2 linked regions of the Homo sapiens genome follow. The protein of the gene in region 1 purifies or fractionates together with the protein of each later gene. This does not show direct contact. Each region holds a gene or a part of one and is shown on either strand. Other genes may lie near its edges. The genes, in order: FTO and AMD1.

Region 1 (3,500 bases):
CCTGGATGTAGATGTTTTCCTCTCTCTTGCTGACCCCTCCGCCAGTTTTGTCTTGTGATGCCATTAACACATCTCTCCCTTTCTGACCTGGCTCCTGCCCATTGGTGTCCCAAGAAATCGTGAGAATAGTTAGCCCCCCGTCTCCCCAGCCTGTTGCTTTCTCGTGTAGTTGTTCACAGTAGTTGAGAAGTTGAAGAGCTTTTGCCTATTGAAGGTGCACTGAGAATAAACTCTTTCCTGCCACCAGAATTGCAGTGGTTCACGGCCTGCACTCATTCCCATGAATGCAGTTAATAGCCACAGAAATGTCACATTAAGCAAAGCAGCCAGGGTCTCATCGTGTTGAGACTCGAGTCTCTCAGACCTTGGATTCATTCCCTGGTGTCTTTGAGCCTCAGTTTCCTCATTGGTAAAAGAGAAGTGAAGCAGTGTCTCACAGGGTCATTACAGAGATTAAATGAAATAAATGAAATAACATAGACCAGGAGGGCGTGGTGTTTAAAAGTCACAGATGGGGCACCCTCGGGCCATCCAGCCCAGTGTTTTCTTTAGCCCCTATGATGTTCATTTTTTGTTATATCCCATTAGGTGCCCATATTTAAAAATTGGGAGATTTCACATAAAATTAAAAGGTCTGCATTTTCTTTTTTCTTTTCTTTTTTTTTTTTTTTGAGACACAGTCTCACTCTGTCACCAGGCTAGAGTGCAGTGGCACGATCTCAGCTCACTGCAACCTCTGCCTCCCAGGTTCAAGTAATTCTCCTGCCTCAGCCTCCCAAGTAGCTGGGACTACAGGCACGTGCCACCACGCCCAGCTAATTTTTGTATTTTTAGCAGAGATGGGGTTTCACCACATTGGCCAGGATGGTCTCGATCTCAACCTCGTGATCCACCCACCTCGGTCTCCCAAAGCGCTGGGATTACAGGCGTGAGCCACCGCGCCAAGCCAAGGTCTGCATTTTTCTTTAGAACTCAGAACACCCAATAGTCCTAGGCCCCCATCCTCGCATGGCAGCAAGCTAAATAAGCATCTTCCCACTGCGAGTTGGGGCATGACCCAGCCTATGGTTTGCCATACTCCCTCTTTTTCTCCGTTTTTTCATTAATTGTGAACCTGACCTGCATCACCCTTTCATGTCAGTGCTCTCCAAACCTGCTTGCTTGCACCCCTCTAGTCGAAATATTTTGTGCTTACCCCAATATATGTGTGTGACTATTGAACTCTATTCGTAGACTGCTTGTACTAATGTCATTTGCATCATAAAATATTCATATCCAATAAACATATTAAAAGGATGAGATAAGAAACCGAGAGATTTTGCTGTTTTTTTCCTTTTGCATGGATGAGCCAGCTTCACTGTCCTGGGTGGGGCCCAGGTGGAATTAGTTCTCAAAGTCCTCCAGGTGGAGTCAGGGAATGTGCAACAGGGTTGGAGAAATCACTACTTTAAGTGAATCCGAAAGGTGAGATCACATTTGCTCTAAAGAAATGGTGATCCCAGCACTTTGGGAGGCTGAGGCAGCAGATCACTGGAGGTCAGGAGTTCGAGACCAGCCTGGCCAACACGGTGAAACCCCGTCTCTACTGAAAACACAAAAATTAGCTGGGTGTGGTGGTGTGTGCCTGTAATCCCAGCTACTCGGGAGGCTGAGGCAGGCAAATCGCTTGGCCCGGGAGGCGGAGGTTGCAGTGAGCCGAGATCATGCCACTGCACTCCAGCCTGGGCCACGGAGCGAGAGAAGAAAGAAATGGTGACTTTCATTGATCATGTGTTTGAGGATTTCATGTGCTCTCCAGGGAGGTTTCAGGTGGGTAGAAGGAGGTGGGCAAGACCCAATAAAAAAGCAGCTGGTGCGGGCAATGACAATGAACTCGTATCCTGCAGGGTCAAAGGAAGGCTTGCTTCTGCTGTGAATTGGAGAAGGACTTTCCTGGAAGCACAGGCCCAGAAATCGCACCCTTCTCCCCATGTGTGCGGATAAGGGACCACTTCCATCAGCAGCAGCCCCCTCCTGCTTTCCTGCCAGTCCTCCCTGTGGTCCCAGGTCTCTTGAGAAAAGTGATCTAAGAGATCCCTTTGCAATGAGGTGCTACTGACTGCCCTACCTCCCTCCCTTCCTCCCATGAATGTTTCTTGGTGCTGACCACAGCCTCAGCAATGAGGCAAGCCTGGGGACCCAAGACAGATCTCTGCCTCCCAGGCTAGTGGATGCCCTGGGATATGTAGTCACCAAAATAGGAACTTACCCCATAGTGGGGAAATAGACAGTAAGCAGCAAATCAATAACAAGAGTGTTCCAGATGGTTGTAAGTGCCAGGAAGGGAACCAACTGGGAGAGGGACAAGAGGAGATGGTGACTGACCAAGGGGACCTTGATCAGGCTGTGGGGAAGGGAGGTGGTTGGGAAGAGCTTCCCAGGAAAGGGGACGGCGGGCCCAGGCAGGAGAGCCTTGGGAGGGGGTGCCCAAGGAAGGAAAAGGGCCCTGAGCCTGAAGCCGAGAAGACCAGGAGGGGAGAAGGGGAGATGTAGGGCAGAGCAGACGGGAGCCGCTCGGGTTTTATTCCACACACCCCAGGAAGCATGAGAGGGTTTCAAGCAGCAAGGGCATGGAAGTAACTTGGTGAGATATTTTTATGCATTAGATCATCGCTCTATCTGGATTCCAGAGGGTCTCTGAGAGAGCAAACAGCTTAATCCAAAGGAGCGGCTTTCCAACTGGGAATGTCCCCCTGGCTGGGTGAGATCTCAAGATGGCCTGCGGCCCCTCTAGATTGCCTGCCTACAGAGTTCACTCTAAACAGCCCCTCCCCTCCACACCCCAGCAGATCCATTCCTGACGCCCTCACTGGCAGGCTCCAGCCCCACAGAGCTTTCTAGACATAAAAGAGCAGGGTCATGGCATCATTGGTGACACAATTTTAGTAATAAGCTTCAAAACCCATCACTCCACTGAATCCAGGGATGCCAGAATTGAGAGTCCATAGGACCCGTTTAACGGATCCCACATTCAGTAGACGGTTTTTTGTATGCTTCGAGGGAAGGAAGGTATTTTCAAATGCAACTTCTTTTTTTTTTTTCTTGCTCTAGTTAGGGCTGATTTTACCACTGGGCAAATTGCATACATTTGGATCCATGCCACGCTAAAAACTGTTTATTTTGGAGATCTGTCAGAGGCAAGCACATGGAAGACAAGGGGATTCTGGTTTGAAAAGGCAATTCTCATCCAGACAGATTCAGATGGAGAGGAGCGGTGTGGATTAAAATGCGCCGAAGTGGTAATGCCGTTTATCCCGTTTGCCTTTGTTACTCTGTGATTAAATGGTATTTTTAATTAAGTTTCATTGGGAGCCATAGGTATCGCGGTGGTGAAATCAATTTGACAACCATAAAGGGGAGAGACGGCACAGGCGTGTTGTGATGATTGCGGCTGTAGGGAAAGCCGGGCAGCTTGCAGAGGATGGGTGGGAGGAGGGGAAGCCGGCTAAGAATGACTTCCT
Region 2 (4,023 bases), on another chromosome or scaffold:
AAGATAAATTTACAAAATCCTTGCAAAAATTATCTACTATTAAGACTCCCATTCCTGAATATGAAGGTAAATAAAAATATCCACTATGATTTAAGTATTAGAAACATTACAATTTCAGATTTTTAAAGAGCTTATCTAATTCAGGTCCATCAATAATGCTACCTGCTTAAGTCATCACCTACTGACTTCCCACTATAACTTATTCTTGCACATACTCCTTTTTACCCACTGGACGCACTAACAAATCCCACCCTCCCTTTCTCAGTTATATTCACCATTTCTATTAAGACTTTTAAACACGTTCCATGGCTGAACTAAACAGTGTAACAGTCTTTTCCTTTCTTATTTTTGTTTTCTCTTTTTTTAAAGGCTGTTGTGGCCAGGCACTGTGGTTCAGAGGCCAAGAAGGAAGGATCACGAGACCAGAAGTTCAAGACCAGCCTGGGCAACATAGCAATAGCCAGTCTCTTAAAAAGAAAAAAGGCAGCTGGGAGTGGTGGTGCAGGTCTGTAGTCCCAGCTACTCGGTAGGCTGATGTGGGAAGTTTGCTTGAGCCCAGGAGATGGAGGGTGCAGTGAACCATGATCACACCGCTACACTCCAGCCAGGGTAACAGAGCAAGACCCTCTCTTAAAACAAAGTATTCACCCTTACAACTTGTAGCACAGATACTTTAAAGTCTTGGTCCATGTCACCTTGAGGTTGGTGTCTGCTGTCTTTTCCTTTGAGATGTTAAGATTTTCCTGGTTTTGAGTATGTTGACTAATTTAGGATGGCATCCTGGATATTTTGACATGTTACATCATTCTAGGTCTTGATTTTTAAAAACTTTCAGCAGACAATCTGGTTTGGTTTAGGCTTCAAGTTTTTACTCAATGTTTCTAGGTTGTGTTATGGTTCCAGTGTCAGGTTTGTTATGAACTCCTTTGCTATGTTATTTGCATCTGCCCCACTTATTTGCCACCCAATGGCCAGGCTGGCCCTGGAGAGGCAGTCTATTGTGTATTCTAGTTTTCAAAGCCTCTGATGTGCTGTTTAGGGTCAGATCCATGCAAAATGGCTAAGGAGTGTTCATATAAAACTTTATAGGTTTACTTTCTTCAACCTTCCATAATCTCTCTGACAATGCCTGACTCACATAGGGGATAGGGGAAGGACTCTTCTTCATCCACTACCTATAAAAATAGGGCTTTGGCCGGGCGCAGTGGCTCACGCCTGTAATCCCAGCACTCTGGGAGGCAGGAGGATCACAAGGTCAGGAGATCAAGACCATCCTGGCTAACAAGGTGAAACCCCGTCTCTACTAAAAATAAAAAAAAAAAAAATTAGCTGGGCATGGTGGCGGGCACCTGTAGTCCCAGCTACTTGGGTGGCTGCGGCGGGAGAATGGCATGAACCCGGAAGGCGGAGCTTGCAGTGAGCCGAGATCGTGTCACTGCACTCCAGCCCTGGCTACAGAGCAAGACTCTGTCTCAAAAACAAACAACAAACAAAAAATGATTCCCTTCTCTCGTTGTTTTAGACATCTGCCTAACTGCCACAGCTGCTAAAGGCCTACAAGAGGATTGGGGCAGAATAGAACAAAACAAAAGCAAAAAAGAGATTTCTTCCACTCTGATTCAAAGGGGCCTCTCATTCTTTCTTTGCAGAGGAGAACTAGAGAGCCTTTCTTGGAACTATTTTTGCCTGCCCCTACTTTTCAGTTCTGGGTTTCTGGCAAGCCCAGGAGAAATCAGCGAGGAGATACCACAGGGGAAAAAAAACAGGAAATTCACTGCTGGTTCAGTGGAATTTAAAGTTCTGGCTTTCTTCTCCATTTCACCTGCTAAAATTTACTTCTCAGAGTCCTTGGATAGCTGCTCAACAATGCATTCTGTCCAGGGTTTATTAATTGCATTTTAATAAGAGAAGACAGTGTAGCATGCTTCTTCTGTAATGGCAGAGAAATAACCTTTTGTTTTCTGAGCCAGTCTCACTGTCACCCAGGCTGGAGAACAATGGCACAATCACAGCTCACTGCAGCCTTGGCCTCCCATGCTCAAAGAGATCCTCCCACCTCAGCCTCCCAAGTAGCTGGGACCACAGGGCATGTATCACTACACCTTACTAATATATTTTTAATTGTTTTGTAGAGATGAGGTCTCCCTATGTTGCCCAGGTTGGTCTCAAACTCCTGGGCTAATGAGATCCTCCCATCTCAGCTTCCCAAAGTGCTAGGATTATAGGCACGTGCCAACCCATTGGCTTCAAAATGCTCTTATACTCACTCATCATCAGTTAATAAAATTCTCCATTCAAACCTTTCCTCAACTAATAGTAATGCTCCGGTAATCAGAATTTTTCAATCATAGTATCAAAAGAAAGCAATTACTTTAAGCAACCTAGGACAAACAGTTAAACTGTCTATCAACCTAGTGATGATAAAGGCATTTACCAGAGCTACTAAGCTCAAGAAAAATAAATCAGAGGGCAAAATAGACGAAAGAAAAAAGTAGTCAATACAATGCTATACATGTACATAAAAGAGGTGAAAAACTCTGCAACAGCTGAAAATTTCAGCACAAATTATTTCTATCACATTTCTGTGGGAAAAAATGGCCTGCTTTTGTAAATAAAGCTCTACTGGAACCTAGCCACACCCATTCATTTATACATTGACTATGGTTATTTTCTCCCTATAAGGGCAGAGCTGAGTAATTGCAACAGACTGTCTGCCTTGCAAAATTTAAAATTTACTCCCTAGTCCTTTACAGAAAGTTTGCTGACTCTTGTTTTGGAGGAAAGGTTTTCAGTGGTCTGCTTTCTGATCAAATTAATGATGGAAAAGACAAAGTGCTTTATACAGTCGACAGAGCCATTTTTAAAATTAGGTTGCAGTGAGCCAAGATCGTGCCACTGCACACCAGCCTGGGCGACAGAGTGAGACTGTGTGTCAAAAATAGAAAAGATAGTATTAAGCTAGAATGTTTTATCAGGCTCAGTAGTGATAGTGGTCTTGTCTCTGCTTCACTCCCAAGTACACTACAAACTGAGACTTTGAAGCACTAGTCTATTATAAACTATTTATAAAACTGATCTATTTGGCAATCCTTGCTATTTAAAGAGTCAATAAATCAAATTGATGGATATAAAGCAGAATCAAGAGAAGCAAGATAGCAAGATGATTTTGGGATTTGTTCACATTACAGCTCACGTAATACTGATCTAGTCATTAGAAATTATTATAAAGCTATTCAAGCACACAATTTTTTTTTTTTTTGAGATGCAGTCTTGTTCTGTCACCTAGGCTGGAGTGCAGTGGTATGCTATCAGCTCACTGCAAACTCCGCCTCCCAGGTTCAAGCAAGTCTCCTGCCCCAGCCTCCCGAGTAGTTGGGACTGATTACAGGCATCTGCCACCATGTCAGGCTAATTTTTTTTTTGTATTTTTAGTAGAGAAGGTGTTTCACCATGCTGGCCAGGCTGGTCTCGAACTCCTGACCTCAAGCAATCCACCCGCCTCGGCCTCCCAAAGTGCTGGGATTTGGGATTACAGGCATGCACCACCATGCCTGGCCCGAAGCACACAATTCTTAGGTGGTTATAAAACACAAAGAAATATGTAGATTGAGTATTTCCTGATTTGAATTCCTTTTTCTCATCTTAAATGCCACCTCTCTGATCTAACTCAGTGGTTCTCAACTTGTAGTAATTTTGCCACCCAGAAGACATGTGGCAACATTTGGAGACATTTTTTATCACAACTGGGGTGGTGGTGGTGTTGCCAGCATGCAGTGGATAGAGGCCAGGGACACTGCTACACACGGTATAATTAACAGGATAGTCATTGACAACAGTGAATTATCTGAATCAAAATGTCAAGAATGCTGAGGTTGAGATACCCTAATTTCACTTAAAGACTAGATACTAAAATATTAAATATAATCAGAGATCATGATAAATGATCCCAAAGAAAAATAGATGTTCTATATTAATAACAGCACACAAATTGTATGTCTGAAAAACAACACTTTAGTGGCATGC

The links.
Region 2: the proteins of FTO (region 1) and AMD1 purify together in Homo sapiens (affinity purification with western blotting, with the first as the bait; one study listed by BioGRID). This does not show direct contact.

Annotation. Positions count from the first base shown.
Region 1 is NC_000016.10:54,113,156-54,116,655, forward strand, and holds part of FTO (alpha-ketoglutarate-dependent dioxygenase FTO), read left to right. Parts: 3' UTR 1-3,500.
Region 2 is NC_000006.12:110,881,061-110,885,083, reverse strand, and holds part of AMD1 (S-adenosylmethionine decarboxylase proenzyme), read right to left. Parts: intron 1-4,023.